Linked DNA regions of Homo sapiens. The protein of the gene in region 2 interacts with the protein of the main gene of each other region in a biochemical or structural test. Each region holds a gene or a part of one and is shown on either strand. Other genes may lie near its edges. The genes, in order: MBL2, TLR4, FGG and SIGLEC11.

Region 1 (7,627 bases), on a different chromosome or scaffold from region 2:
GATATTGATTATACTTATTTTAAATTACTGGTATTCCTTTCCAATAATTTTGCAGCCAGTAGTGTGTGCTTCTGGTCCTTATCTTTCCATTGTGCTGATCGTGCCCCTCTCAGCCTGCTCTTTATCTTAGCAGTGAGCAACCTCCTTTTGGGGGTGTAGCCTGTCTGGTCACCTCTGACACATGCTGCTCTAGGTCACCAGGTGAGCCAAAGCAGAGGCAGAGAATGGGCCTGGACAAGAAGTGTCCCTGGCCCCAGAAACCTATCAATGATGGTCACCCACTAGGAAATTCTTGTTTTTTTTTTTTAGAGAGGGAAGCTGCCCCAGAGGGAGGACGCTGGTGGAAGGAATATACCAGGCCTGGGAGTGAAGGGGCAGAAGGAAGAATGGCAGTAAGGAATGTCTGAGGAGAGTCTGAAAGCCACATGTGTTCTGATTTCTGTGGCAAAAGAGCAGGTCTTTGCTATCCTAACTACTGAGCTGCCTTTCACTGCAGCCACCCTGTGTTCAAGGCCATGTCACAGATAAGCATGTCTCTATCACATGGGCAGATATGACACCCTCTGACCACCCACCCCATGGCTATAGGGGCCTAAGGTAGTCCTTGCCAGATGCAGTGCGCCTGTGTATTTGTGTTGGTTAAAAAGAAGGCCTGTGACATTTACACATTCTCAGAGAGTTCATGAGCAAAAACAAGCAAAGAAAAAATAGCAGGACTGGAACACAGGACAGTACAGGATGAAAAGTATGGGAAGGTCAGGCCTTAGGGTTACAAAGGACACTGCTGACAACAAGAAAGCAGCCTACCGCTGTCAGCTGTCTCTCACAGCCTGTCTCTCATGGCCAGACCATGGTATTCCCTGCTGACCCTAAACACTTCCACAGAATACCGGTGTACAACAATATTACTCTGTTGTGAGATCCCAAATCATTCCAAAATCATGTCTTCATATAGACAGAAAAGGTTGCTCTGTGAACCACAAAAACGAAAAACATGCCCCTCTCCTGCTTAATATAAACATCTGCCACTCTTTTACAAAATACAGCTTCGCCTTGCTCTGTTCTACTTATCTCCTAAATAAAAGTTAAGATGCACAATCACAGAATTGCCCAGCTTACGGACAGCACCCTATCCAGAACAGACTCCTGCTTCTTAAACCCCTTCCCCCAAAACCAACTAAAACAAAACAAGTCTTATAGAAATCCCCTCCCGACACCCTGTTACTGAGAAATCCTAGGGTACACCATTGTGCTCAATATCCCTGTTGGAACAAACAGTTAAAAGAAACTAAAAATAATAAATCCATTTTATCTGACTATAAGCATATTCCTGATGGTCCTCACTTGGAGAGCAATAACATTCTCATTGCTATTGTCCTACTCACAGCAGCTCTGTGGAAAAGGGAATGAGGTTCAAAATCTGATTTGAAAGATGTAAAACTGAGGTTCGGCCAGAATATGGGGTCTATCTAAGCTCATATTCATGAGACAAAACCAAGCCTTCTGGTTTCCAATCTCAAACCATGCCTCTCACATGGAGCCACCCAAGAACACTGCTTCCCAAGCTGAGAAGACTCTTGAACAGTCACCCTGGAGGGAATGAAGGCCTTTCTTAAGCAGGCTGTCATGGTGAGCCACGTGCCATGCACTCTGAATGTGGACCAGTTAAGGACACACCACTCCACAGCCAAGGCAGCGGTGCCCTCTTTCCCAGACGAGGAAACTGAGGACATGAAGGCAGTGGAACTTGAATAAGGTCACACTGTTGGGAAGTGGGAGAGCTGGGATTTCACCCTAGTCTACAAAAAAGGGGATGTAGGGCACCAGGCAGTCCTCCTGCAGGTCAGAGAGGCAGTTTTCTCTGCAGCCTCTTGGGGTGAGGTGGATTTGTTGTGGCGCTGCCAGAATGGAAGCAGTGTTAGGAAAGTGGAAAGTTTTTTTTTTTTTTAGACGGAGAGGCTCTGTCGCCCAGGCTGGAGCGCAGTGGTGCAATCTCAGCTCACTGCAAGCTCCGCCTCCCGGGCTCACTCCATTCTCCTGCCTCAGCCTCCTGGGTAGCTGGGATTACAGGCACCCGCCACCACGCCCGGCTAGTTTGTTGTTTTTTTTTTTTTTGTATTTTTTAGTAGAGATGGGGTTTCACTGTGTTAGCCAGGATGGTCTCAATCTCCTGACCTCATGATCCGCCCGCCTCGGCCTCCCAAGGTGCTGGGATTACAGGAGTGAGCCACCACGCCTGGCTGGGAAGGGTTTTAAAGTCCAGAACAAATGCACACAGTGGCCTTATCTATGGGGTGGAGTGCAGAGTGGGCATTCGTGTGGAGAGAGACATTCAGGCTGCGGCATGTGGAGAGTGGCCTCTCCTTTTGGGAAAGGCCTTCTGGAGAGCAGGATGTAACTGGGTGACACTCCAATCTCCGGATCAATTGCTAGATTGACTTTCCCCCAGATACCCACACCCTCTGAACCCAGTTCTAGGAAATTTCAGGGTCTGGAGAGCAGTTTCCTGACCTCTGGACTAGGTAAACAATGAAAGCAAGCACTGTGATTAAAGCCAGCACCGCCAGTGACCTGGAGTCAACTACCTCACCTCACCTTCTGCCACTGGAGCAGGAGCAGGGGGAAGCTCTGGCTGCTAAAGAATAAGAAGGGAAACAAGTCTTCTCAGGCCCTGTCTTCTTTAGGCCCTGGATCTCCTGATATCCACTGATGGCTTTAGGCATGTGGCTCTGTACCATCCTGGACATTTTTCCAGGCACAGCAGACAGGTCAGCAGGAAGTAAGGAAGCCAGTCCCTCCACAAGCCAAGAAGACTTCAATTGGAAGGGACCTGGAAATGCATCTTACTCACATTTCTTTTGGTGTTTGGAGGCCTCCATAGTACCCCCACCACATGGCCCCGCAGCCTCTGAACTTCTCAGGATGGGCTCCCCAACACCCCAAGCTACATGGCATTTTTCTGAAAGCCATATCAGTAATGTAGTTGAGAATCAAATGAACTATGTTCGTAAAAGTATTCTTCCATCCCTTCTAGATTGTCCCCATTAACCACAGCAAGATGGTTCAAGCCATTAACACACACGATACCCATGATCTTATAGTGCCAAGTGCTGTTCTTTTGCTTCTTATCTCAGTTGAGTGGCTCCTAGATAGTCAAGTCATAAATGTGTGTGCCCATGAAAACTTCTTATTATCACTCACTATTCTAGCTAATTCTCAAGTGCAATCAATACCTCCTGTTTCTCAAGTGTGCCTACCTTCTTAATCTAGCTGCCATTACCCTGACCCAGGCCACTGTCTTCTGCTGCTTAGATCATGGCAAGCACTTCCTTTTAGATCTGCTTTTCTCCAGTCCTGTTCCCCTCAACATCATAGCCAGAACAAGCCTTGCAAAATTCAAATGTGATCACCTCTCCACTACTGCAGTCCCTCTAGTGCCCCCTGGAAGGAAACCCAAAGTCTTTAACACAGTTTACAATTCTTGTTATGAGGATGAAATTTGAAGACATTGTGCTAAGTGAAATAAGCCAGATACAAGGGGGCTATTGTATGATTTCACATATATGAGGTACCTAGGATAGATGAATTCAGAGAGACAGAAAGTAAAACAGAAGTTACCAGTGGCTGTGGGTAGGGGTAAATGGAGAATTCTAGTTTAATGAGTTGAGAGTTTCAGTTTGGGATGATGAAAATCATCCCATGATGTGGTGATGATAGCACAACCGTGTGAATGTACTTAATGCTACTGAGTTGTGTGCTTAATAATAATGGTCAAAATGGTAAATTTTATGTCTATTTTACCACAATGAAAAACTGGAAAAGTAAAGTCAATGACTATAATATCATAAAGTGTAAGTAACATGAGAGAAAATAATTCAGGCTAAGAGGATAGAGACTGCTAGGTAGGACTATTTTAGAATAAGTGATCAAGGTACTGATTTCTCTGAAATTGGAATATTTGAATAGAAGAGAAAGAGCTAGCTGGCGATGCCCGTAAGGGGTCCAGGCATGGAGACATCAAATGAAGAGTCTGAGGCAGGAATGGCCTTAATGCATTAATGGCAGCAAGAGGTCTATGTGGTTTCATGGATGGGTGTGTGCGTGCATGCACGTGTCTGTGTGTATAGTTGGTGTGCATGAGCATGTGTATGCATTTGTGAGTATCTTTGTTTTTCTGTTGGAAACAAGGATGTCAACAGGACTAACTAGGTGAACCTAGCTGTGGTAGTTCAGCAATGAGATTTGCCAAAATGGATGGCAATTGAAAGAGGAATTGTGCTGTATTAAAGCAGACAGCTGCCGAGCACTGTATTGGAGGCTCCTAAATTTCTCATAGTTCTGAGAAGAGCTGTTTATTAATCTGGAGTTGAAGGCCAGGCCCAGGATATCCTTGTTCACAAGGTTGATTGGGCCCTACATTGCTGAGCCCAGCCTCCTCCCTCACTCTGAGGCATCTGCCAGAGCCCCAGGCTAGAGGGCCAGCGTCCTTGTCACTGAGTCCCTGCTCTGCAGAAACACCAGTAAGTCATTTCTGGTGAATAAATCTGGGTTTCCGGATCAAGGGTTTGGGGAGCTGACATGACCCTGGAGGCATGGAGGAGGCTTTCTAGGGGTGGGGGGAGTGGGATGGAAAGCAGAAATCAGGTTGAGGATGTCTCTTTTTCTGCTTGTGCTGGAGCATCTGTGACTTTCCTCCATTATCTGTTCATCTGCAGTGGAGACTGTCTTTGTTTTCAAAGGGAAACTTGGAGGCTTAGACCTATGGGGCTAGGCTGCTGAGGTTTCTTAGGGGGCAATAGCTGGAAGAAAGCTCTGAAGAACAAATGAAAGGTTAATACTGAGAAATGGGAGGAGGATTCAAGGCAAGTTTTCTAATTGCCAGTGGTTTTTGACTCACAGAACATGGGGAATTCCTGCCAGAAAGTAGAGAGGTATTTAGCACTCTGCCAGGGCCAACGTAGTAAGAAATTTCCAGAGAAAATGCTTACCCAGGCAAGCCTGTCTAAAACACCAAGGGGAAGCAAACTCCAGTTAATTCTGGGCTGGGTTGGTGACTAAGGTTGAGGTTGATCTGAGGTTGAGACCTTCCTCTTTGGATCACCAGCTTTCAGCTCAGGGCCTGCCAATGAGTAAATGATAGTTAACAGGTCCTGGAGGGGAATCAGCTGCCCAGATACAAAGATGGGATTCAGGTGGCAGATGGACCCGAAGAGGACATGGAGAGAAAGAGGAAGCTCCTACAGACACCTGGGTTTCCACTCATTCTCATTCCCTAAGCTAACAGGCATAAGCCAGCTGGCAATGCACGGTCCCATTTGTTCTCACTGCCACCGAAAGCATGTTTATAGTCTTCCAGCAGCAACGCCAGGTGTCTAGGCACAGATGAACCCCTCCTTAGGATCCCCACTGCTCATCATAGTGCCTACCTTTGTTAAAGTACTAGTCACGCAGTGTCACAAGGAATGTTTACTTTTCCAAATCCCCAGCTAGAGGCCAGGGATGGGTCATCTATTTCTATATAGCCTGCACCCAGATTGTAGGACAGAGGGCATGCTCGGTAAATATGTGTTCATTAACTGAGATTAACCTTCCCTGAGTTTTCTCACACCAAGGTGAGGACCATGTCCCTGTTTCCATCACTCCCTCTCCTTCTCCTGAGTATGGTGGCAGCGTCTTACTCAGAAACTGTGACCTGTGAGGATGCCCAAAAGACCTGCCCTGCAGTGATTGCCTGTAGCTCTCCAGGCATCAACGGCTTCCCAGGCAAAGATGGGCGTGATGGCACCAAGGGAGAAAAGGGGGAACCAGGTACGTGTTGGGCTGTTCTGTCTCTGCAATTCTTTACCTTCCAGAGGAAACTGCCTGGGGATATGAGGAGACTGATGTCCTATTTGAGTATATTTTTCTCAACTATACTGTAACTCAAAACAGAGATTCAGCTCTCATTCTCTGGCATCTCAGAATTCCACACAGCAGTTTGTGACTAATAGTTGTCTTGCCAGCCCAGGAAAGTGGCCCACAGGTCAGGCCATCCCGTGGGACACAGGATGAATTTTTCTTCTCTGGGTCATTGTCATGTCAGACCCCTATTCACTTCAGTAGGGATGGCACCAGGTTCAAGAGGCCAAAGAAGAGATGGAGTCAGCAAACAAACATAGGTTTTACTGGGGGAATCTGTTTACAGGGAGATCCAGCAGCAGTGGGCTGGACAGGAGAACAACAACTACTGGTAAAAACAAATGCAGTTAATTTTCACTTTGCACCCTCCCTGCAGCAACCTCCACGTGGCAACTTTATTTCTTAAGTTATTGCTCTCAGGTGCCCACCATACAGTTATTGAGAGCAGTGCTCAGAAAGGTCAGTCCTGGGTCAAGGTCTCCTTTCTCCTGAGAAGGGATTGGGCATCAAACTCTTGAAGAGAGAGAGCAAGAACATAGATATTAAGTCACATTTCCTTTGTCTTCCAACAGGCCAAGGGCTCAGAGGCTTACAGGGCCCCCCTGGAAAGTTGGGGCCTCCAGGAAATCCAGGGCCTTCTGGGTCACCAGGACCAAAGGGCCAAAAAGGAGACCCTGGAAAAAGTCCGGGTAAGGACCCCAGCAAGGTCTGAGCTGACTTCACCCAGGGTTCTGAGACCTTGAGTATCTGGTAAGAGGTGCCCCTTCTCCTGTTCCTTCAAAGGAAGATACCCAAATTTGCTTTCTGACCCAGTGCCCTCAGCCCTCTCTTCATTCTTAGAGCCTTAGGGAATTCCTATAAGTGCCTGAGTACAGACTTACAAACTTTTCAAGACAACTCCCTCATCAGGCACTCCCTGTAAGAGCTGAGCCTGGATTCTCCATCAGCTGAAACAGTCTAATGTGAGGCCCTGGTCCTAGAGGGAGAAAACAGGCCATCTAAGTGTGGGCTTATTATACCTATTTTTACAAAAGCATGTAACCATGGTATGTCATATTTTACTTCATAAGAAACCAAGCCAAAGCTTAATAGCTTAAAAACATAGCCGTCAATTTAAATCACAAGTCTGTGGGTCGGCCATGTGATTTCTCTGCTGGTTTAAGCTGGGCTTACCCACATGTCTGTGGTCAACTGATGGCCAATAGTCTCACTCATGTGTCTGGCTGTTGTCTGAATGTTAGCTGGAGTGATGAGGGTAATTGAACCACATCTCTCATCATCCAACAGGGCTTGTTCACATAGCAGTGATTACAGGATTCCCAAGAGTAGAAATAAGATAGGCTTTAGGCTTCTTGAAGACTCAGAGCACATTATCATTTCTGTCAGACTGTATTGGTCAAAACAAGTCACAAGGCCAGCCCAGATTCAAGGAGTGGGGTAATAGACTCATGTCTTAATGCGAGGAGCTGTACCCTATTGAGGCCATTTTTGCCATCTACTACAACAAGTGATTTGCTCATGCCCTCCCCACTTGGATAATGGGCAACTCACAAAAATCTTGGTTTCCTGACTAACAGAACAAACCTGGAAAAAACAAAAACAAAACAAAAGACATCAAAAGCAAAACCTCTCCAAAGACAAAAACTCTGCAATCTTTTTCGTCACTCTTCACCAGGTCATAATAGAGTAACGCCTCAAGAGATTTCTTTTTAGTTTTGATAGAACAATT
Region 2 (7,909 bases):
TAACTATTTGTTTCTTTTACTTACCTGAACAGAGCTTTTTTTTCTTCCTAGTAACAAACTGTTGTTGTATATAAGGTACCACTGATTATAAGGTGTACCATTACTTTATTTGCCACTAAGAAAGAAAAAAAACTCTGCCAATTATAATTGTACTATATTGTCAATTATATGAGAACCATTCTGCTTTGAGAGGTGTTGACATGAAAAAAACATGAAACTTAAAAACTTGAGATGGTTGGATGGAATGAGGTTTGGTTTTTAGATATGTCAGGTTAATGGGACCTTTTTTAAAATCACTATGCAATGGAAATTATAGGATTCTAAGGTTGTGGCATAAATACAACCTGCTGATCAACAGAATTTTGTGTTCCTCTTCCACAGTATAGTATTGGTGCTGTGAAGTGGTGCTCACCATTAAGTGTGTGTGTGTGTTTAAGTTTTGGGTAGGGGGAAGAGCCTTGAAGCTTAGAAGATAGAGATCCCTTGCAACTTGGTATTGTGTTGGGTCTAGTTTTGGTCAAATGCAATGAGAGCAGAGATAATGCATGTCACTTCTGAGCAGAGGTAGTTAAATACATGATATCATCCCCTACTTTCTTCACATTCTGCAGTAAACTTGGAGGCTGCATGTTGAATATGAAAGTATAATGAAATAAAAGAAGCCTAGAACCAGGAATCATACCTGGGGTAATCCAATCAGAAATATCCTCATTGAGTGTTTCATGAGCCAGGAAAACTTTTATTAAGTCACAATAAAATCTGGAAGTTTATACAGCAATTAGCTTAGTCTAACACTTGTCAGTTTTGTGCATATTTCTTACAGCATATGCATTACCTGCCAAATAAAAGCAAACACTTCTAGGTCCCTGGCAAATATGGGATTCCTCCATTGACTGACTGATTATGGGTCCTGAGTTGAACTTGCTCTGCATGAAGGATGTAGGCGATCAAGTGGCTTGTTTTGCCTCTGGCCAAATCTCTACCACTATGCTTAAGATGCGATTAATTATGTACAACAAACCCCCATGACACACGTTTACCTATGTAACAAACCTGCTCATCCTGCACATGTACTTCTGAATGTAAAAATAAAAGTAAAAAAAAAGAAAACAAGAGGTGGTTATTATTCTACTGTGGGAGAAATTATAGGCCTAATGGTAACTAATCACCACGGTCTTACCTCATTATAATACTGCATCGGTAAGTTCATCAACATAAGCAAGTTAGATCTGATAACCAAGGGGCTTACAGTTTCTAATTTGTATTTGACACATGGTCTGCCTTCTGGAAGAGCAACATAGAACCTAGATGTCTTTGATTAAGGTCAGTAAATGATTGAGTGTTAATCCCATTCATTTCCCAGGAAAAGGAAACCTCTTTACAAGTCACCACCAGGGATTCTCCAATCACACATAGGAAAAATTTCCAGGAAGACTTCTATAAAACACATGTATTAACATCTCCGAAAACATAGTTGAAAGGACTTCCCTGGGCCCTTTTCCTTAGTTCCTCATCTAGACTATCAAGCGGTTTCCTCTCCAAATGATGGGAAGAAAGTGCATTTGTCTATTACACACTTGTATTACTCTATTCACTTAAGCACTGTGTCCCAGTAATGGGGTCTAGTTATGTCTGGCTTGAAATGACCCACATATTTGTTTCTCATTCTTAGGAAGTGGAGTGTTTCTGTATGTGTATATGTGATGGGGGTAGGCCAGGAGATTTTTTATCTAGGCAATACCCAGCCTGAAATCATTATTAGCATGACATGAGTTAAACGTATTTCTATTTTAGAAAGATGTTTTCAACAGCAGGATGAAGAATCAATTGGAAGAGCTGGTACATTGAAAGAGGTGAATCTAGACTTTGGGAGGCTTCTTAAAGTATATTGAACTAGTCTAGGCCGTGGGATATGTTCAATAGTAATGGTAGTAGAAATGGCGACTGACATTTTGGAATTATTTTACAGATACAATTTCTACAACTTGGTGGAACATTTTTTAAAATGTAGGTTTTATTATTCGGCTATGGTGAAAACAACAGATCAGAAGATGATGCCACTGGAAATATAGTTTGTTGTTTACAGTTCCTAAGAAGCGGGGGCATGCCACACCATGCAGGGCCACATTGGTAGCACCAGAGTCCGTCAGGAGGCAGAGGGAGCAAGAGGAAATTATAGGCACAAGCTTTTATTGTTGTTACTGCAGAAAAGGCAAGGCAAGGCAGGGTAAGCAGGGATAGGACTGGCTAGTTTGAATAACCTCAGTGGGCTCTGGGGTAGAGGGTCTGTCTCTAGTTGTCTGGTACCTGGACCTGTGATGATTAGGGCTGAATAACGGTGTCTACTTGGGTGTAAAAGCCAGGTAGAGGAGGTGGTTCAGAGGAAGGGCTCTGGATTGCTTAGTGTGCATAAGGCATGCTCCAGAGCAAATCTTTTGCTATTTTTTAGAACTAACTAGCCCTGGTAAGTGCAGTCTCTTCCCAGATGCCAGAACATCAAGAACACAGAAAAGAAGACAATTGGGTTAATACATGTTTAGCATGAGAAATGAGGAAGTAAGGGAAATAAAGTCAAAGAGATTTCCACCTTGGATGACTATGTCAAAGTGAAACACCATTAACTTTCCAGGGAACTAAACTTTATTGAGCACCTACTCTGTGTCAGGCACTGCTCTAAAATCTTTACATGAATAATCTCAATACTCAGAGCAAAGCTTTGACATGGAGGTTGTTTTTATCTTAACTCTACTGGTGTGTTGATGGAGTCTACAAGAGTTTGTGCCCAGTCCACCACAAAATGGTCCCTCACAGCTTGGTTTTTGACACGTTGGATTGGAAGTGCTTGGAGGATATTACAGTAGAACTATCTAGGACTTAGCATGCATAATATTCCTGTTTTAAATCAGGTTCTTATTTAACAGAAACTTACATTGCACTTGCTACTTTCCAGACACTGTCCTAAAAGCTTTACAAATGCCAGTTCATTTAATCCCAATACAATACTTTGAGATACATATTATCATCTTCATTCTATCCACATTTTCAATCCTCATCATAGCTCTCATTTATGGAATGTAATGATGATGCTCTAGACTAGACGTTTTACGTAAGTTAGCTTAATTCAGTAATTCAAAACACATGCGATTATCTTCGTTTTAAAGACCAGAAAACTAAAGGTTGGTAGGTTTGTATAATTTGACTACCATTGCGTATCTTTATTTTAATACATTTTATAAATGCAAGCTTCTGCTATGATTAAAAGTGATTACCACATTTTACAGACCAGAAAGTAATAATAAGTGTTGGTGAAGATGTGAAAAAATGAGAACTCCTGTACACCATTTGTGGGAATGTAAAATGGTACAGATGCTGTGGAGAATCATATGGTGGGTGCTCAAAAAATTAAAAATAGATTTACCACATGATCCAGCAATCTCACTTCTGAGTACGTATCCAAAAGAATTGAAAACAGAGACTTTAAGAGATATTTGTACAACCATGTTTATGGCAGCATTATTCACAATAGCTAACGTGTGGCAACAATGCAAGTGTCCATGAACAGACAAATGGATAAGCAAAATGTGGTCTATACATACAATGGAATATTGTTCAGCTTTAAAAAGGAAGGAGGCTTTGATCTATACTACACAGAAAAGAACCTTGAGGACATTATGCAAAGTGAAATAAGCCAGTGACAAAAAGATACATACTGTATGATTCCACTTCTAAGAGCTGCCTAGAGTAGTCAAGATTATAGAGACAAAAGTAGTGCATAGATTCAAGGGCCTAGGGAAAGGGGAAATGGGGAGTTATTTATTAATGAATAGTGGTGATGATTGTACAAAAATATGAACATAATTAATGCCACTAAATTGTACACATACAAATGGTCAAGATAATAAATTTTATGTTATGTCATGTTATGTTATGTGATTTTACCATAATACAGAAAATGAAAAAAGAAAAGAAAGAAAGTAAAGCTTAGCGGTTTACATGACTTGACCAATGCCTCAAAGCCATGAGTCACCCAGCTGAGATCTGAACTTCAGTATATTCCATTCTGAAATCCCAGACTTTTCCCAATCTTCTTGTACTTTTCAAACTGTGTTTCAGTTGAGGTTTATTTTCAGTTTTGTATGTGAGTTTCTTCACAAGAAGGGGCGGGCCAAATTGTGTCCTGCAAAAACCTACATATCGAAGTCCTAACCCCTCTACCTCAGACTATGACTGTATATGGAGAGAGAGCCTTGAAAGAGGTATGTAAGGTAGAATGAGGTCATTATGGTGGGCCCTAATCCAACATAACTGGTGTCCTTATAAGAAGGGGAGATTAGAATTCAGACACACTTGCTGACACCTTGAGTTCAGACTGGAAGCCTCTAGAATTGTGAGAAAATGAATGTCTGTTGTTTAAGCCACCCAGTCTGTGGTATTTCCTTATGGCAGCCCCAGCAAACTAATACAAATAGTGTTTCCACAGCTGAAACAAAATTGGAAAATCACCGTCATCCTAGAGAGTTACAAGGGCTATTTTAATAGAACCTGATTGTTTTCCTAAATTCACCAAGCCCAGGCAGAGGTCAGATGACTAATTGGGATAAAAGCCAACTAGCTTCCTCTTGCTGTTTCTTTAGCCACTGGTCTGCAGGCGTTTTCTTCTTCTAACTTCCTCTCCTGTGACAAAAGAGATAACTATTAGAGAAACAAAAGTCCAGAATGCTAAGGTTGCCGCTTTCACTTCCTCTCACCCTTTAGCCCAGAACTGCTTTGAATACACCAATTGCTGTGGGGCGGCTCGAGGAAGAGAAGACACCAGTGCCTCAGAAACTGCTCGGTCAGACGGTGATAGCGAGCCACGCATTCACAGGGCCACTGCTGCTCACAGAAGCAGTGAGGATGATGCCAGGATGATGTCTGCCTCGCGCCTGGCTGGGACTCTGATCCCAGCCATGGCCTTCCTCTCCTGCGTGAGACCAGAAAGCTGGGAGCCCTGCGTGGAGGTATGTGGCTGGAGTCAGCTCCTCTGAACTTTCCCTCACTTCTGCCCAGAACTTCTCACTGTGTGCCCTGGTTTGTTTATTTTTGCAAAAAAAAAAAAGAGTTAAATTACCTTAAAGACTCAAGAAGCCACAGAGATCAAATAATTCATTGTTACAGGGCACTAGAGGCAGCCATTGGGGGTTTGTTCCATTTGGAAATTTTGAGTGCTAACAGGGGCATGAGATAACATAGATCTGCTTAAGGTCCCTGCTCTGCTACCTTGTGGCTCTGTGAAGAAATTATCAAACCTGTCTGAGACTAGTTTTCGCATCTGTAAGAGAATTATAATACCTTCTTCACTAGAGAGTAAGCAGACTGCTTCAGTGTCATTTCTTCCCACTGGTGGTCTTTACACTCAGCTTCAAGCAGTCACCCTGCTCCTTTCAATCTCAGGAAAAAGATGGCTTTTGTGTGTGTGTCTCTAGAGAAAGAACTTTCTAAGTGGGTGTCAGACTTCTGTATGCAGTAATATAGTTTAGTCCAGAGGATGAAAAAAATAAGAGAATGAAAAAGGAAAAGAGAGAGAGAGAGAAGAAAAAAGCAAGAGGGAAATATGTATAATGTCAGCTAATGCAACAGTTTCTTTCTTAGTGAAATACCAATCAGCTGGTTGGTAATCTTATTCATGATGGATCTCTTTTGTTTTTCCCCTGCGCAGACTTCACAGTTGCTTTAGAAACCCATAGTAGAGCCGAACAGCTAAGAAAATGATTTACAGTGAGGCAGGGTCAGAAACTCAAGAGAGAAAAAGCCAGCTGCAGTCCTGAAGTTGAGGATATAGGAGAAAATCAAGTAATATTTAGCAAAGACTAATTCATTATCTTGAAGCCATCCCTTCCCTCAATTCCCTGCCCATAGTCCTCCTCCTTGTCCTCTTCTCTGTATCCCTCTGCTGTTAGGTTAATGGAGATAGATTTTCTAATTAGGCTCACTGCGAGATAAAACCACAGCCAAACTTGACTTCTTTTCCCCATGTACCTTTTCCTGTCAGTCCCTGAAGCCTGTCCATCCCTGCCCATCCCCTTAGTTCCACTGTAAGGCAGGCCCTCATTTCCCCTGGCATTGACTCTTACACACTAACTGCTTTCCTGATTCCAGTCTTCTTCCTTTAATTCATTCTGCACGTTCTTGTTTGTTATGTACTTGCATTTGTTGTTATTATTTTTCCTTAGGCTTCAATCTAACAAATTACTCTCCTTAAAAACTTTTAATAACTCTCCATTGCCATTAGAACAGCTTTCTACCACAGGGCCTTTGCACTGGCTATTTCTTCTACCTAGAATGCTAGATCAGTGCTATCCATTGGCAATATTATGTGAGCCACATATGTACTTTTAAAGTTTTTAGTAGCCTCATTAAAAAAAGAAACAAGTGAATTTAATTTCGATAATAGTTTTATTTAACTTAGCGTATTTAAAATAATGTTTAAAATTTTAATATATATTTACCTATTATTGATATTTTTACATTCCTTGTTTGGTACTAAGTCTGGAATTTAGTATATGTTTTACATTTACCACACTTCTCAATTTACACTATTCACATTTCTTGTGTTTGATAACTGTGTATGGCTAGTGACTACCGTATTGGTCAGTGCAGCCCAAGTCCTTTTCATGCTTTAATCACTCCATTCAGATCTCTGATTAAATGTCCCCTCCTCAGGGCAGTCTTCCTTGATTGCCCCATGTAGAGCTCTCCAGCCTCACTTATTTGCCTCAAATCCCCTTATACTGCTTAATATTTTTTTTTCTAGAGCACAACATTTTATATTTTTGTTTGTTTATTTTCTCTCTCTCCCTTTGTAATGGAATCGGTAAGGAGGCAGGATCATTGCTGGTTTTATTTACCACTATATTTCCAGTGGCCAGCACACAGTAGCCGCTAGATGTGTAAGTGATAAATGATTGAAATAATTGCTGCAGGACAAAGTCTGAGGCCCTCCTGATCTGGCTTGCCCTCTTACTTAGATTTCACCACTCCCACCACTCACCAGCTAATCTGAGTTTGTTTTCCACTCTTTACGTGCTCACGTTGTCCTCTCCTTAGGACATGTTTTTCTTCCCCTTTCCACATATCTAAACCTTACTCATCTTCCAAGACCCACTTTAAAATCTTCCTTTTCTGGGAAGCCTTTCCTGAATCCAGACTTGATCTCTGCTTTCTCTGAACCACAGGGCATATTTTCTAAGCCTATTTTATGGCCCCTTGAGATAGTGTTAGCTTTGCTCCTATCTAAACTCTTACTCTAGACTGTGAGTCCATTGAAGTCTGGAGCTGCATCATATTTTTCTTTGTAATGCCCACAGCACTTGGCAGGAAATGCCTACAATTTGGACTTAAGTAAACCTTCATTTAATCAGTTATTCAATCAGTTAGTGATTCAGCAAATATTTATTGAGCACCAACCATTTGCCAGACACCATTCTGAGTGCTGGAGACAAAGCAGTGGGCAAACCCATCAAACTTGCAATGGAATACAGGAGATGAACAATACGATGAGAACAATCAGATAGACAACATAATGTTAGATGGTTGTGCTTCCCGTGAAAGGGAATAAAAGAGGGCAAAGAAAGAGTGCCTGGCACTGTTTCTATTAGACAATATTGTCTTTGAGGCTCCATGGCTTGCAACATTTAAGCAGACATACGAATGAAGATCTGCATGTTTGAACTCTGACTTTGCGCATATTACTTCATTTCTTTGAATTTCCATTTTCCTCATCTTTAAATGCTTATTTGAAGATTAAGTGAAAGTATATAACAAACAAGAACTATGCAGGCATATGGTAAGGGATTAATGATAGATGATAATAATTAATGTTGACATCTATTGATCACTTATACTGTAGCGGGCTTTTAAATAAACTCTT
Region 3 (7,983 bases), on a different chromosome or scaffold from region 2:
CCAGTATTTCTACTCAAAGGCTTAAAAAGTTTCTTCTTTCCGGAGCACATTCTTGTGAATATAACTTGGCCCCTTGGTTGGTGGTGGTTTATTTTTCCCCCCAAACTCATTTGCTCTTGTAAATCTCCTGCTAATCATATTTAGTCATGAAAATTCTTTCATGGGGTGAGAGATTTAAAATCGTAGATTACACAAAGATGGAAAAACACAAACAAACCAGTAGCAGATACCAATGTGGCACAGCAAAACACTTAAATCCAACTTCTCTGTTCAATTTGTCTCAATCCAGGGCACCTCAGATCATTCCTTAGTCTCAAACTAGTATTAAAAATGGCTAATTTCCAGCCTCTTTGGCCTCTGTAATTGCCAATGGGATAATCCTTCTTTCTCTAGGCACCCAGTACTTTATTTCCTAAATTCCAATCACAGCAGAGATTTTTCAACATCCCTGCCGCTAGGACAGATCCCCCAAATGACACATGTAATGAAACTTTATGAAGTTAAGAAGTGCAAAACTCAACCTGTGGGTGCTGTTCTGCTGCCAGTGAGGGAGTCCATTTTACTTGTGCCCAATGTTGTTTTTGTCTTTGATTTACATAGTGAAACTAAAAGCACATTGTTCACAGACTACCAAGAAACTTTTGCGTTTTCACTTTCCCTGGGCTATTTTTATACACAAAGCAAATATTCTAACAGACAACTCTGTTGCCCTTAATGGGATATTTTTACTATTAGGTTGGACTGGCTTTCAGTATGCCAATAGGTCATTTTCTTTCTGCCAGTTTTTAGGAAATCCAGTTCTGAGGGTTCAGGCTATAAATTTAGCTTAGATCTAGAAATGGTTTACTTGTTAGAAAAACAGATATATCATTGTCGCCATTGATTTGAGCTTCCTTGACCACGCAGTGGCTGTCTCTCCCTTTAACTTACTGATGGAATTCAATTTATCAAGTCCTATTAAACTTGAACCATGCAGTTAGCATTGAAAAACTGCTTCCATCTAAAATTGGACTGAAGCCAGGTGCATTGGCACGTGCCCATAGTCCGAGCTACTCAGGAGGCTGAGGCAAGAGGATCACTTGGGCCCAGCAGTTCAGTTTGAGGCCAGACTGAGCAACAAAGCTAGGCTGCATCTCTAAAGAGAGAGAAAAAAAAAAAAGGACCATAAACACAAGCTAATCATAAAACAACACAAATCTAGGTTTGAGAAATACTCAAAGACTGTAAAAGATCATTCACAAAATCTTGTCTCTAACCCAGAGAAGAAGATAGATAAGTTGGTAGATAGATGTAAATGTGTGTTCAAATAATCATGCACACAGTTATGTAGATGCACACACACATCTTTAAAATCCATTCTATCAGTGAATAACTTTGAGTCTCATAACACCTTGTATCTGTGTATTATTTTAAATTAAGAAGGGCTTCATGGTTGTATTAAGATTCATGGTTAAGAGCACAGGCATTGGGCCCCATGGGTTTGAGTTCCTGTTCTGGCACACTGACCCTGCATATGTTACACAACATCTCTAGGCCTTTCTTTTTTCATTATAAGATACAGGTAATTATATCTACTTCCTAGGCTTGTGGTGAGGATTAAATGAGAGAATATACATGACAACAAAAACTATACTACCACATAATATCTAGCATAAAGAAGATGCTCAAAATTGGTAGTTCTTTCTATTATTCCTTAGGGCTATATCATTTGTCACTAGGTCAAGAAGTCTTCTACATAATCAAATTTAAATTCAGCAAATAATTTTGGAGCAAAGATGAATGTAACAGACTTGGCTCACAGAGTAAATTACCAATATACACGAAGACTGTTAGCTGTAGATTTGTGTTTTCAAATCAGAACACAAACGGTTGGACGATAGGGAATTTGGGACATTATTATTTCAATAAACAAGCCCACTGACCTCAGAGTTACAGTAAATGATTATTTTGGCTTAAATACTACCTATGCTATTATCTCAAAAAACATACCTGGAAGTAGAAGAACTGTGATTTAAGAAACATTCTTCATTCCTGGAATTCATCAATCATTTATCATTTTTCAAAGAAAAAATTGGCCCAAACATGAAAAAACTAGTTAAAATTTAATAAACCTAAGTGATACTAGATTGAATGCAGGGCCAATGTAGACCGCTAAATCACTGTTGACCATTTTTTTTTCTCAGAGAGCAAGCATCTTGTCTTATATGATTTGGATTTAGGACTTGAGATTGTAGTAAAAGGAAATTATTTTCTCTAAAATTGTGATAACACATCTGGATTCCAATATAAGTCAGTTAAAAGCCTGTAATACAAGTATTCCACTTCTAAAATGGGATAAGATAGAATTTCTAATGTCCTCAATTTAAATGTTTATCAACTTTGTGAATATTATATATCTTAACACAACCAATGAAACTTTATGACATTAAGGAGCTCAGAACCCAACCTGTGGCTGCATGAATTGTTACCCTAAATTCAACAAACTAATATTTTATGGTCTTCAGCAAAAAGAACCACAAAGACATGCTCTGTCTAAACACACTTTGCTTGAACATTCTTACAGATAGGAAGTATACCTTCTCACAAGGCATGCAATCCATTTATATTATCATTTGATCTTTGATTGGTAAAATCAATTTGGATAGAATTTCCTAAACTAAACGACCAGGTGCTTTCTTCTCTGGGGAATCTTACAGAAGGAGACTGCAGTTAGTTGCAACAGATTTTTTATTAAAGAGAATTTCTGTAGCTAGAACAACAAAGCTTGTTCCCTGTGAACCAAATCTACCAATAATAGCTCTATTAAAAGAGTTTCCTATTTACATAGATTTTATACCAAATATATTTGGTAATTCATAAACCTTACAAACATTTACTTAACACTTACCATGAATTGGGTAATGTGCTCAACACATTATCCCACTAAATCTTAGTAATAGCCCTATTAAGTAAATACCATATCATAAGTATTATCTCTCTTTTACTGACATGGATAATGGAACTCAAGGAGATTGAGTAACTTGTACTGAATCACACAGCCAGTAAATTGTAAAGATGGGACTCAAACCTAGGGAGATGGACTCCAGAGCCTTAACAACTATTTATTTATACATTCTCCAATTGAGCTACACACTTCTTGAAGGCAAAGGCAATGCCTGAGTCACCTTTCATGTTCAAATCATATTAAAAAGTTAGCAAGATGTAATTATCAGTGTACTATGTAAATCTTTGTGAATGATCAATAATTACATATTTTCATTATATATATTTTAGTAGATAATATTTATATACATTCAACATTCTAAATATAGAAAGTTTACAGAGAAAAATAAAGCCTTTTTTTCCAATCCTGTCCTCCACCTCTGCATCCCATTCTTCTTCACAGAGGCAACTGATTCAAGTCATTACATAGTTATTGAGTGTTAACTACAACTATGTTAAGTACAGCTATATATGTTAGATGCCGTAGCCACAGAAATCAGTTTACAATCTAATGCAGTGGATACAGCATGTATACATATAATATAAGGTTGCTACAAATGCTATCTGAGGTAGAGCTGTTTGAAAGAATACTAATACTTAAATGTTTAATTCAACTGACTTGATTGACAACTGATTAGCTGAGTGGAAAAGATGGATGAGAAAGATTGTGAGACTTAATTGGCTGGTGGTATGGTGATATGATTGACAATAACTGCTAAGTCAGAGAGGGATATATTAAGGAGGAGAAGAAAAGCAACAAATCTGGTTTTGATGTGTTCACTTTGTTATAATTATTGATTATTTACTGAATATGAATATTTATCTTTGTTTTTGAGTCAATAAATATACCTTTGTAAAGACAGAATTAAAGTATTAGTATTTCTTTCAAACTGGAGGCATTTCTCCCACTAACATATTTCATCAAAACTTATAATAAGCTTGGTTCCAGAGGAAGAAATGAGGGATAACCAAAAATAGAGACATTAATAATAGTGTAACGCCCAGTGATAAATCTCAATAGGCAGTGATGACAGACATGTTTTCCCAAACACAAGGATGCTGTAAGGGCCAAACAGAAATGATGGCCCCTCCCCAGCACCTCATTTTGCCCCTTCCTTCAGCTATGCCTCTACTCTCCTTAGATACAAGGGAGGTGGATTTTTCTCTTCTCTGAGATAGCTTGATGGAACCACAGGAACAATGAAGTGGGCTCCTGGCTCTTTTCTCTGTGGCAGATGGGGTGCCATGCCCACCTTCAGACAAAGGGAAGATTGAGCTCAAAAGCTCCCTGAGAAGTGAGAGCCTATGAACATGGTTGACACAGAGGGACAGGAATGTATTTCCAGGGTCATTCATTCCTGGGAATAGTGAACTGGGACATGGGGGAAGTCAGTCTCCTCCTGCCACAGCCACAGATTAAAAATAATAATGTTAACTGATCCCTAGGCTAAAATAATAGTGTTAACTGATCCCTAAGCTAAGAAAGTTCTTTTGGTAATTCAGGTGATGGCAGCAGGACCCATCTTAAGGATAGACTAGGTTTGCTTAGTTCGAGGTCATATCTGTTTGCTCTCAGCCATGTACTGGAAGAAGTTGCATCACACAGCCTCCAGGACTGCCCTCCTCCTCACAGCAATGGATAATGCTTCACTAGCCTTTGCAGATAATTTTGGATCAGAGAAAAAACCTTGAGCTGGGCCAAAAAGGAGGAGCTTCAACCTGTGTGCAAAATCTGGGAACCTGACAGTATAGGTTGGGGGCCAGGATGAGGAAAAAGGAACGGGAAAGACCTGCCCACCCTTCTGGTAAGGAGGCCCCGTGATCAGCTCCAGCCATTTGCAGTCCTGGCTATCCCAGGAGCTTACATAAAGGGACAATTGGAGCCTGAGAGGTGACAGTGCTGACACTACAAGGCTCGGAGCTCCGGGCACTCAGACATCATGAGTTGGTCCTTGCACCCCCGGAATTTAATTCTCTACTTCTATGCTCTTTTATTTCTCTCTTCAACATGTGTAGCAGTAAGTGTGCTCTTCACAAAACGTTGTTTAAAATGGAAAGCTGGAAAATAAAACAGATAATAAACTAGTGAAATTTCTGTATTTTTTCTCTTTTAGTATGTTGCTACCAGAGACAACTGCTGCATCTTAGATGAAAGATTCGTAAGTAGTTTTTATGTTTCTCCCTTTGTGTGTGAACTGGAGAGGGGCAGAGGAATAGAAATAATTCCCTCATAAATATCATCTGGCACTTGTAACTTTTTAAAAACATAGTCTAGGTTTTACCTATTTTTCTTAATAGATTTTAAGAGTAGCATCTGTCTACATTTTTAATCACTGTTATATTTTCAGGGTAGTTATTGTCCAACTACCTGTGGCATTGCAGATTTCCTGTCTACTTATCAAACCAAAGTAGACAAGGATCTACAGTCTTTGGAAGACATCTTACATCAAGTTGAAAACAAAACATCAGAAGTCAAACAGCTGATAAAAGCAATCCAACTCACTTATAATCCTGATGAATCATCAAAACCAAGTGAGAAAATAAAGACTACTGACCAAAAAATAATAATAATAATCTGTGAAGTTCTTTTGCTGTTGTTTTAGTTGTTCTATTTGCTTAAGGATTTTTATGTCTCTGATCCTATATTACAGATATGATAGACGCTGCTACTTTGAAGTCCAGGAAAATGTTAGAAGAAATTATGAAATATGAAGCATCGATTTTAACACATGACTCAAGTATTCGGTAAGGATTTTTGTTTTAATTTGCTCTGCAAGACTGATTTAGTTTTTATTTAATATTCTATACTTGAGTGAAAGTAATTTTTAATGTGTTTTCCCCATTTATAATATCCCAGTGACATTATGCCTGATTATGTTGAGCATAGTAGAGATAGAAGTTTTTAGTGCAATATAAATTATACTGGGTTATAATTGCTTATTAATAATCACATTGAAGAAAGATGTTCTAGATGTCTTCAAATGCTAGTTTGACCATATTTATCAAAAATTTTTTCCCCATCCCCCATTTATCTTACAACATAAAATCAATCTCATAGGAATTTGGGTGTTGAAAATAAAATCCTCTTTATAAAAATGCTGACAAATTGGTGGTTAAAAAAATTAGCAAGCAGAGGCATAGTAAGGATTTTGGCTCCTAAAGTAAATTATATTGAATGTGGAGCAGGAAGAAACATGTCTTGAGAGACTAAGTGTGGCAAATATTGCAAAGCTCATATTGATCATTGCAGAATGAACCTGCATAGTCTCTTCCCTTCATTTGGAAGTGAATGTCTCTGTTAAAGCTTCTCAGGGACTCATAAACTTTCTGAACATAAGGTCTCAGATACAGTTTTAATATTTTTCCCCAATTTTTTTTTCTGAATTTTTCTCAAAGCAGCTTGAGAAATTGAGATAAATAGTAGCTAGGGAGAAGTGGCCCAGGAAAGATTTCTCCTCTTTTTGCTATCAGAGGGCCCTTGTTATTATTGTTATTATTATTACTTGCATTATTATTGTCCATCATTGAAGTTGAAGGAGGTTATTGTACAGAAATTGCCTAAGACAAGGTAGAGGGAAAACGTGGACAAATAGTTTGTCTACCCTTTTTTACTTCAAAGAAAGAACGGTTTATGCATTGTAGACAGTTTTCTATCATTTTTGGATATTTGCAAGCCACCCTGTAAGTAACTACAAAAGGAGGGTTTTTACTTCCCCCAGTCCATTCCCAAAGCTATGTAACCAGAAGCATTAAAGAAGAAAGGGGAAGTATCTGTTGTTTTATTTTACATACAATAACGTTCCAGATCATGTCCCTGTGTAAGTTATATTTTAGATTGAAGCTTATATGTATAGCCTCAGTAGATCCACAAGTGAAAGGTATACTCCTTCAGCACATGTGAATTACTGAACTGAGCTTTTCCTGCTTCTAAAGCATCAGGGGGTGTTCCTATTAACCAGTCCCGCCACTCTTGCAGGTTGCTATCTGCTGTCCCTTATGCATAAAGTAAAAAGCAAAATGTCAATGACATTTGCTTATTGACAAGGACTTTGTTATTTGTGTTGGGAGTTGAGACAATATGCCCCATTCTAAGTAAAAAGATTCAGGTCCACATTGTATTCCTGTTTTAATTGATTTTTTGATTTGTTTTTCTTTTTCAAAAAGTTTATAATTTTAATTCATGTTAATTTAGTAATATAATTTTACATTTTCCTCAAGAATGGAATAATTTATCAGAAAGCACTTCTTAAGAAAATACTTAGCAGTTTCCAAAGAAAATATAAAATTACTCTTCTGAAAGGAATACTTATTTTTGTCTTCTTATTTTTGTTATCTTATGTTTCTGTTTGTAGATATTTGCAGGAAATATATAATTCAAATAATCAAAAGATTGTTAACCTGAAAGAGAAGGTAGCCCAGCTTGAAGCACAGTGCCAGGAACCTTGCAAAGACACGGTGCAAATCCATGATATCACTGGGAAAGGTAACTGATGAAGGTTATATTGGGATTAGGTTCATCAAAGTAAGTAATGTAAAGGAGAAAGTATGTACTGGAAAGTATAGGAATAGTTTAGAAAGTGGCTACCCATTAAGTCTAAGAATTTCAGTTGTCTAGACCTTTCTTGAATAGCTAAAAAAAACAGTTTAAAAGGAATGCTGATGTGAAAAGTAAGAAAATTATTCTTGGAAAATGAATAGTTTACTACATGTTAAAAGCTATTTTTCAAGGCTGGCACAGTCTTACCTGCATTTCAAACCACAGTAAAAGTCGATTCTCCTTCTCTAGATTGTCAAGACATTGCCAATAAGGGAGCTAAACAGAGCGGGCTTTACTTTATTAAACCTCTGAAAGCTAACCAGCAATTCTTAGTCTACTGTGAAATCGATGGGTCTGGAAATGGATGGACTGTGTTTCAGAAGGTAATTTTTTCCCCACCATGTGTATTTAATAAATTCCTACATTGTTTCTGCCATATGGCAGATACTTTTCTAAGCACCTTG
Region 4 (7,337 bases), on a different chromosome or scaffold from region 2:
CGGAGTCTTGCTCTGTCACTCAGGCTGGAGTGCAGTGGCACGATCTCGGCTCACTGCAAGCTCCGCCTCCTGGGTTCACGCCATTCTCCTGCCTCAGCCTCCCGAGTAGCTGGGATTACAGGTGCCCGCCGCCACGCCTGGCTAATTTTTTTGTATTTTTAGTAGAGACAGGGTTTCACTGTGTTAGCCAGGATGGTCTCGATCTCCTGACCTCGTGATCCACCCGCCTCAGCCTCCCAAAGTGCTGGGATTACAGGCGTGAGCCACCGCACCGGCCAGCCACAACTGTTTTCTACCCAGAGACACGTCCCCACTAACCTGAAGCCTTAATGATTCAACCCAGTGAATAAAATACTGGGGAAAAAAATAAATTAATTTAAAAGTGCACACCACAGTGGAACAAGGTAAGCTTCAAAAGACCTCTGCCATTCCAACCCCACAGGAGATGATGAACTTGATCACCATCTTACTGAGCACATTGCCACTGCAGCCAGCAACTGAGAAGCCAGCGCACAAGGACTCTCTACAACCAAGGAACTCATACAGAACCTTCATCCCTGAAAGCACCAAGACCTGAATTAAGCGCCAATAAACTATAAACATTAAAATCAGGCTGGATGTGGTGGCTCATGCCTGTAATCCCAGCACTTTGGGAGGTTGAGGTGGGCAGATTACTTGAGGTCAGGAGTCCGAGACCAGCCTGGCCAACATGGTAAAACCTCGTCTCTACTAAAAATACAAAAATTAGCCAGGCCTGGTGGCACACATCTGTCATCCCAGCTACCTGGGAGGCAGAGGTTGCAGTGAGCCAAGATCGTGCCACTGCACTCCAGCCTGGATGAAAGAGCGAGATGCAAGACTCTGTCTCAAAAAAAAAAAACATCAAAAATCAATCCTTGGCCAGGCGCAGTGGCTCATGCCTGTAATCCCAGCACCTTGGGAGGCCAGGGTAGGTGGATCACTTGAGGTAAGGAGTTCGAGACCAGCCTGGCCAACATGGTGAAAATCCATCTCTATTAAAAATACAAAAATTAGGCCAGGCGCAGTGGGTCACGACTGTAATCCCAACACTTTGGGAGGCCGGGGCGGGAGGATCACGAGGTCAGGAGTTCAAGACCAGCCTGACCAGCATGGTGAAACGTCATCTCTACTAAAAATACAAAAAACAAGCCAGGCATGGTGGCGGGCACCTGTAGTCCCAGCTACTCGGGAGGCTGAGGCAGGAGAATTGCTTGAACCTGGCAGGTGGAGGTTGCAGTGAGCCGAGGTCATGCTACTGCACTCCAGCCTGGGCGACAGAGTGAGACTCTGTCTCAAAAAAAAAAAAAAAAATTCAACTCAATATGGATCAAAGACTTAAATCTAAGTCCTGAAACCAAAAAATTCTAGAAGATAACCTAGGAAAAACTCTTCAGGACATTGGTCTAGGCAGCGGTATGTATACCATTGTCATGGAATATTACTCAGCCATAAAAAAAGAATGAAATAATATCTTTTGCAGCAACTCGGACAGAGCTGGAGGCCATATTTCTAAGTGAAATAACTCAGGAATGAAAAATCAAATGCCATTATGTTCTCACTTTTAAGTGGGAGCTAAGCTATGGATACATAAAGGCATACAGAGATCATGGACTATGATCTCATGGAGGCAGAGAGTAGAATAATAGTTATCGGAACCCTAGAAGGATGCATGGGTGAGTAGGTGGGGAATGAAGAGGTCTGTCTAACAAATATACGGTTATATAGAAGGAATAGTTCTTATGTTTAATAGCAGAGTAGGGTGACTATAGTTAACAGTAACATATTGTAGTGGTGGCTCATGCCTGTAATCCCAACAATTTGGGAGGCTGAGACAGGCAGATCGCTTGAGCCTAGGAGTTTGAGACCAGCCTGATCAACATGGTAAAACTCCATCTCTATCAAAAACAAAGTATAAAAATTAAGTGGTAGTGCACACCTGTAGTCCCAGCTGCTCGGGAGGCTGAAGTGGGAGGATTGCTTGAGCTTGGGGAGGTCAAAGCTGCAGTGAGCCGTGATCTCACCACTGCACTCCAGCCTGGGTGACAGACAGACCCTGTCTTTTTTTTCTTTTTTTTCTTTTTTTTTGAGATGGAGTCTCTCTCTGTTGCCCAGGCTGGAGTGCAGTGGTGCAATCTCAGCTCACTGCAAGCTCCACCTCCCGGGTTCACGCCATTCTCCCACCTCAGCCTCCTGAGTAGCTGGGACTGTAGGCACGTGCCACCATGCCCAGCTAATTTTTTGTATTTTTAATAGAGATGGGGTTTCACCGTGTTAGCCAGGATGGTCTTGATCTCCTGACCTTGTGATCCACCCGCCTTGGCCTCCCAAAGTGCTGGGATTACAGGCGTGAGCCACAGTGCCCAGCCTGAGTGACCCTGTCTTAAAAAATAATAATAACGTATTGTATTTTTCAAAATAACTAGAAAAGATGATTTGAAATGTTCCCAACAATAGAAATAATAAATGTTTGAGGTGACAGATATTCAAATACCCTGACTTGATTATACCATATTCTATGCATGGCACAAAATATCACATATACCCCATAAATATGTACAAATATCACATATTAATAAAAATACTTTTTAAAAATCAACAAGGCAGGGCTGGGCGCAGTGGCTCACGCCTGTAATCCCAGGATGTTGGGACTCCGAGGCAGGTGGATCACCTGAGGTCAGAAGTTCAAGATCAGCCTAGTCAACATGGTGAAACCCCATCTCTACTAAATATACAAAAAATTAGCTGGGCATGGTGGTGGGCACCAGTAATCCCAGCTACTCAGGGGGCTGAGGCAGGAGAATCGCTTGAACCTGAGAGGTGGAGGTTTTAGTGAGCCGAGATCATGCCATTGTGCTCCAGCCTGGGCAACAAGAGCAAAACTTCATCTAAAAAAAAAAAAATCAACAAGCCAGACACAGTGGCTCACGCCTACAATGCCAGCATTTTGGGAGGCTGAGGCAGGCAGATCACCTGAGGTCAGGAGTTCGAGACTAGGCTGCTCAACATGATGAAACCCCATCTCTACTAAAAATACAAAAAATTATCCGGGCATGGTGGTGGGTGGGTGCCTGTAGTCCCAGCTACTCGGGAGGCTGAGGCAGCAGAATCACTTGACCTTGGGAGGCGGAGGTTGCAGTGAGCCAAGATTGCACCACTGCCCTCCAGCCTGGGTGACAGAGTGAGACTGTCTCAAAAATAAAAATAAAATGGCCAGGCGCAGTGGCTTATGCCTGTAATCCCAGCACTTTGGGAGGCCAAGGTGGGCGGATCACAAGGTCAGGAGATCGAGACCATCCTGGCTAACACGCTAAAACCCTGTCTCTACTAAAAATACAAGAAAAAAATTAGCCGGGCGTTGGGGTGGACGCCTGTAGTCCCAGCTACTCAGGAGGCTGAGGCAGGAGAATGGTGTGAACCCGGGAGGTGGAGCTTGCAGTGAGCTGAGATCCCACCACTGCACTGTAGCCTGGGGAACAGAGCGAGACTCCATCTCAAAAAAATAATAATAATAAAATAAAAATAAATAAATAAAAATCAACAAAGGAGAAAGGTTCATAGGACAGGATCCAGAAGAGACCATATGTGGGATTCCAGTTGTCCTTTCCCAGTGAAGTCATACAGAAAGCGCTTAATGCTTGAAGCAAAGATGAGTGACAACATACAGCAAGTATTGCCACCCAGGGAAGCTCACCTGAGCCTCGGCATTCAGAGTTTTTACTGGGGGTTGGTCACGTAGATGCAGCTGACTGCCTGTGTGGCTGACCTAGTTTTTACCCTCTGTGGAGATACAGCAATAATACGTGGTGCAAAGCCCCCACCATAAATCACTGTGTTCTTGTAGACTCTTCCAGTGTCTCATGGCCCCCTGGAGAATGAATGAATGAATGAGACTCTGCATCCATCACCTCACCTGCAGCCGTGACTCACCTGTGTCCCCTGACAGTCCCCTCCTAGCACTGCCCACCTCCGAGGCTGGCCAGGGTGGCTCCTTCCTGGTTTGGGGCTGGTCCTCATGCCCTCTGCCCTGCTGCTTCCCCTGTGAAAGGAGAAGTTGGGAAGCGAGCTTTCAGGACATAGCGGTTCCCGAGGCTCCTCCTCTGTGGATGGTCACTGCCCCTCCACCAGGCTTCCTGCTGGAGGAGTTTCCTTCCCAGCCAGGCCGGCCCAGAAGCCAGATGGTCCCGGGACAGGCCCAGCCCCAGAGCCCAGAGATGCTGCTGCTGCCCCTGCTGCTGCCCGTGCTGGGGGCGGGTGAGTGGGTCGGTGGCTGGGGGTCCCAGGCAGGGGCTGGGGCTGCCGCTGAGCCTCTGCATCTCCCCAGGGTCCCTGAACAAGGATCCCAGTTACAGTCTTCAAGTGCAGAGGCAGGTGCCGGTGCCGGAGGGCCTGTGTGTCATCGTGTCTTGCAACCTCTCCTACCCCCGGGATGGCTGGGACGAGTCTACTGCTGCTTATGGCTACTGGTTCAAAGGACGGACCAGCCCAAAGACGGGTGCTCCTGTGGCCACTAACAACCAGAGTCGAGAGGTGGAAATGAGCACCCGGGACCGATTCCAGCTCACTGGGGATCCCGGCAAAGGGAGCTGCTCCTTGGTGATCAGAGACGCGCAGAGGGAGGATGAGGCATGGTACTTCTTTCGGGTGGAGAGAGGAAGCCGTGTGAGACATAGTTTCCTGAGCAATGCGTTCTTTCTAAAAGTAACAGGTATGGAATGGGGTGGGAACCCCTGCCTGTCACACTGGGGAGGGACCCTGGGGACAGGCTATGGGCTGAGCAGAGAGGGCTCTCAGGGACCCCTGCAGCACAAGAATCTCCCACCCGGTCTCTGTCCCAGCCCTGACTAAGAAGCCTGATGTCTACATCCCCGAGACCCTGGAGCCCGGGCAGCCGGTGACGGTCATCTGTGTGTTTAACTGGGCTTTCAAGAAATGTCCAGCCCCTTCTTTCTCCTGGACGGGGGCTGCCCTCTCCCCTAGAAGAACCAGACCAAGCACCTCCCACTTCTCAGTGCTCAGCTTCACGCCCAGCCCCCAGGACCACGACACCGACCTCACCTGCCATGTGGACTTCTCCAGAAAGGGTGTGAGCGCACAGAGGACCGTCCGACTCCGTGTGGCCTGTGAGTGTGGCCTGGGAGGGTGGGGCGTGCAGACAGCCCCGGTGGGTGGGGAGGTGGAGGAGCCCAGCGGGACAGTGAGTGGCTCCCAGCTCAGGAGCATCCAGGGAGAGGAAGCTGTGGGGTCCCAGGATGCCGGCTCAGCCCTGGGAGGGGGATGGGAATGGCGTCTGATCCTCTGTCCACATGTGTGAGCCCTGGAGCTGGTTGTCACTTGTCCATCCTGGGATGTTCCCACTTTCTTTTCCCTGAGGGAGTTTTTTCCAGGTGTGAGGAACAAATTGTCCCTCCCTGAAGCCAGCTCACAATCTTGTTGCAGATGCCCCCAAAGACCTTATTATCAGCATTTCACATGACAACACGTCAGGTACTGAGGGCCTTCGGGCTGGGGCTGGGCCAGTCCTCTTTAGGGATGAAAAGGCTTCAGGGGGGTGAGGGGATGTGGTCCTCTTTGCAGCCCCCCCTCCCACCCATTCTCTCTCTCCACCCCCACCCTCTCTCTTTCCCTGTCTTCAGCCCTGGAACTCCAGGGAAACGTCATATATCTGGAAGTTCAGAAAGGCCAGTTCCTGCGGCTCCTCTGTGCTGCTGACAGCCAGCCCCCTGCCACGCTGAGCTGGGTCCTGCAGGACAGAGTCCTCTCCTCGTCCCACCCCTGGGGCCCCAGAACCCTGGGGCTGGAGCTGCGTGGGGTAAGGGCCGGGGATTCAGGGCGCTACACCTGCCGAGCGGAGAACAGGCTTGGCTCCCAGCAGCAAGCCCTGGACCTCTCTGTGCAGTGTGAGTGTGCCTAGCAGGGGCCTGGAGTCCATTGGGAGGGCAGAGGGATACAGGGGCTGGGCTCAGGGTCCCAGAGCTGAGGGGGTCTTGAACCCCAGGCCTCGGGGACTGACCTTCTTACCTGTGTAGACCCTCATGCAGTTTGTGTCTGGGACTCAGTGGGTGATTCTGCCCTGCCCTTCTATCCCACCCACTTCCCCCACCTCAGTGTCCAGGATAGTTCCCTTTACCCAGAGGGAAGCCCCTGGTCTGTCTAGAGCCGGTCCCCTGTCTCCATTTCAGATCCTCCAGAGAACCTGAGAGTGATGGTTTCCCAAGCAAACAGGACAGGTAGGAAAGGAGACAGAGGAGCCAGGGCCTCTCAGTGCCAAACTGGGGGCCCAGGAGTCTGGAGGGTCCCCACACAGGAGGGTCCCTGAGCCCTGAGCTGCACGTCGATTCTGCCTCTTCCTTCCCTAGTCCTGGAAAACCTCGGGAACGGCACATCCCTCCCGGTCCTGGAGGGCCAAAGCCTGCGCCTGGTCTGTGTCACCCACAGCAGCCCCCCAGCCAGGCTGAGCTGGACCCGGTGGGGACAGACCGTGGGCCCCTCCCAGCCCTCAGACCCCGGGGTCCTGGAGCTGCCACCCATTCAAATGGAGCACGAAGGAGAGTTCACCTGCCACGCTCAGCACCCTCTGGGCTCCCAGCACGTCTCTCTCAGCCTCTCCGTGCACTGTGAGTGGGGGAAAGGGGACACCTGGGTCCCAGGAAGGGGCCCCTGCTGAGTCCTGTCCTCCCTCCCCACAGACCCTCCACAGCTGCTGGGCCCCTCCTGCTCCTGGGAGGCTGAGGGTCTGCACTGCAGCTGCTCCTCCCAGGCCAGCCCGGCCCCCTCTCTGCGCTGGTGGCTTGGGGAGGAGCTGCTGGAGGGGAACAGCAGTCAGGGCTCCTTCGAGGTCACCCCCAGCTCAGCCGGGCCCTGGGCCAACAGCTCCCTGAGCCTCCATGGAGGGCTCAGCTCCGGCCTCAGGCTCCGCTGTAAGGCCTGGAACGTCCACGGGGCCCAGAGTGGCTCTGTCTTCCAGCTGCTACCAGGTGAGGGGACTGTGGGGGGCTGAGGTTCAGGGAGAAAGGAGACAGGATCCTAGAAAGATGAAGGTTCAAGGTTGTGGGGAGAGGGTGTGGGCGTGGTGGGAAGGGATGGGGACAAAGTCCCTGCTCTGTGGCTGGTAGTTGTTGCGGGAAACTGAGGAACGGAGAGAGCAATATGGAGAACAGGAGGATTGTTTATTTAAGGTAAGTTCCAGCTTAGTGGATTTACATTTCAAAAGCTGAGCATTAAATAAAGACAAAGAAGGGGTTTTTTTTGTTTTTTGGTTTTTTTTTTGAGATGGAGTCTCGCTCTGTCAGCAAGGCTGGAGTGCAGTGGCTCGATCT

Evidence for each region.
Region 1: the proteins of TLR4 (region 2) and MBL2 form a complex in vitro, tested with the Homo sapiens proteins (one study listed by IntAct).
Region 3: the proteins of TLR4 (region 2) and FGG form a complex in vitro, tested with the Homo sapiens proteins (one study listed by IntAct).
Region 4: the proteins of TLR4 (region 2) and SIGLEC11 form a complex in vitro, tested with the Homo sapiens proteins (one study listed by IntAct).

Annotation. Positions count from the first base shown.
Region 1 is NC_000010.11:52,769,630-52,777,256, reverse strand, and holds the start of MBL2 (mannose-binding protein C precursor), read left to right. Parts: upstream 1-4,472; 5' UTR 4,473-4,520; intron 4,521-5,597; exon of another isoform or gene 5,598-5,612; 5' UTR 5,613-5,621; coding exon 5,622-5,808; intron 5,809-6,470; coding exon 6,471-6,587; intron 6,588-7,627. UniProt on the Homo sapiens protein: Calcium-dependent lectin involved in innate immune defense. Binds mannose, fucose and N-acetylglucosamine on different microorganisms and activates the lectin complement pathway.
Region 2 is NC_000009.12:117,699,566-117,707,474, forward strand, and holds the start of TLR4 (toll-like receptor 4 isoform A precursor), read left to right. Parts: upstream 1-4,837; 5' UTR 4,838-4,907; coding exon 4,908-5,000; intron 5,001-7,909.
Region 3 is NC_000004.12:154,609,549-154,617,531, reverse strand, and holds the start of FGG (fibrinogen gamma chain isoform gamma-B precursor), read left to right. Parts: upstream 1-4,875; 5' UTR 4,876-4,922; coding exon 4,923-5,000; intron 5,001-5,096; coding exon 5,097-5,141; intron 5,142-5,330; coding exon 5,331-5,514; intron 5,515-5,633; coding exon 5,634-5,727; intron 5,728-7,334; coding exon 7,335-7,465; intron 7,466-7,768; coding exon 7,769-7,902; intron 7,903-7,983. UniProt on the Homo sapiens protein: Together with fibrinogen alpha (FGA) and fibrinogen beta (FGB), polymerizes to form an insoluble fibrin matrix. Has a major function in hemostasis as one of the primary components of blood clots.
Region 4 is NC_000019.10:49,957,941-49,965,277, reverse strand, and holds the start of SIGLEC11 (sialic acid-binding Ig-like lectin 11 isoform 1 precursor), read left to right. Parts: upstream 1-4,105; 5' UTR 4,106-4,124; coding exon of another isoform or gene 4,125-4,196; coding exon 4,197-4,272; intron 4,273-4,342; coding exon 4,343-4,726; intron 4,727-4,856; coding exon 4,857-5,141; intron 5,142-5,457; coding exon 5,458-5,505; intron 5,506-5,654; coding exon 5,655-5,918; intron 5,919-6,200; coding exon 6,201-6,248; intron 6,249-6,377; coding exon 6,378-6,635; intron 6,636-6,707; coding exon 6,708-6,995; intron 6,996-7,337. UniProt on the Homo sapiens protein: Putative adhesion molecule that mediates sialic-acid dependent binding to cells. Preferentially binds to alpha-2,8-linked sialic acid. The sialic acid recognition site may be masked by cis interactions with sialic acids on the same cell surface.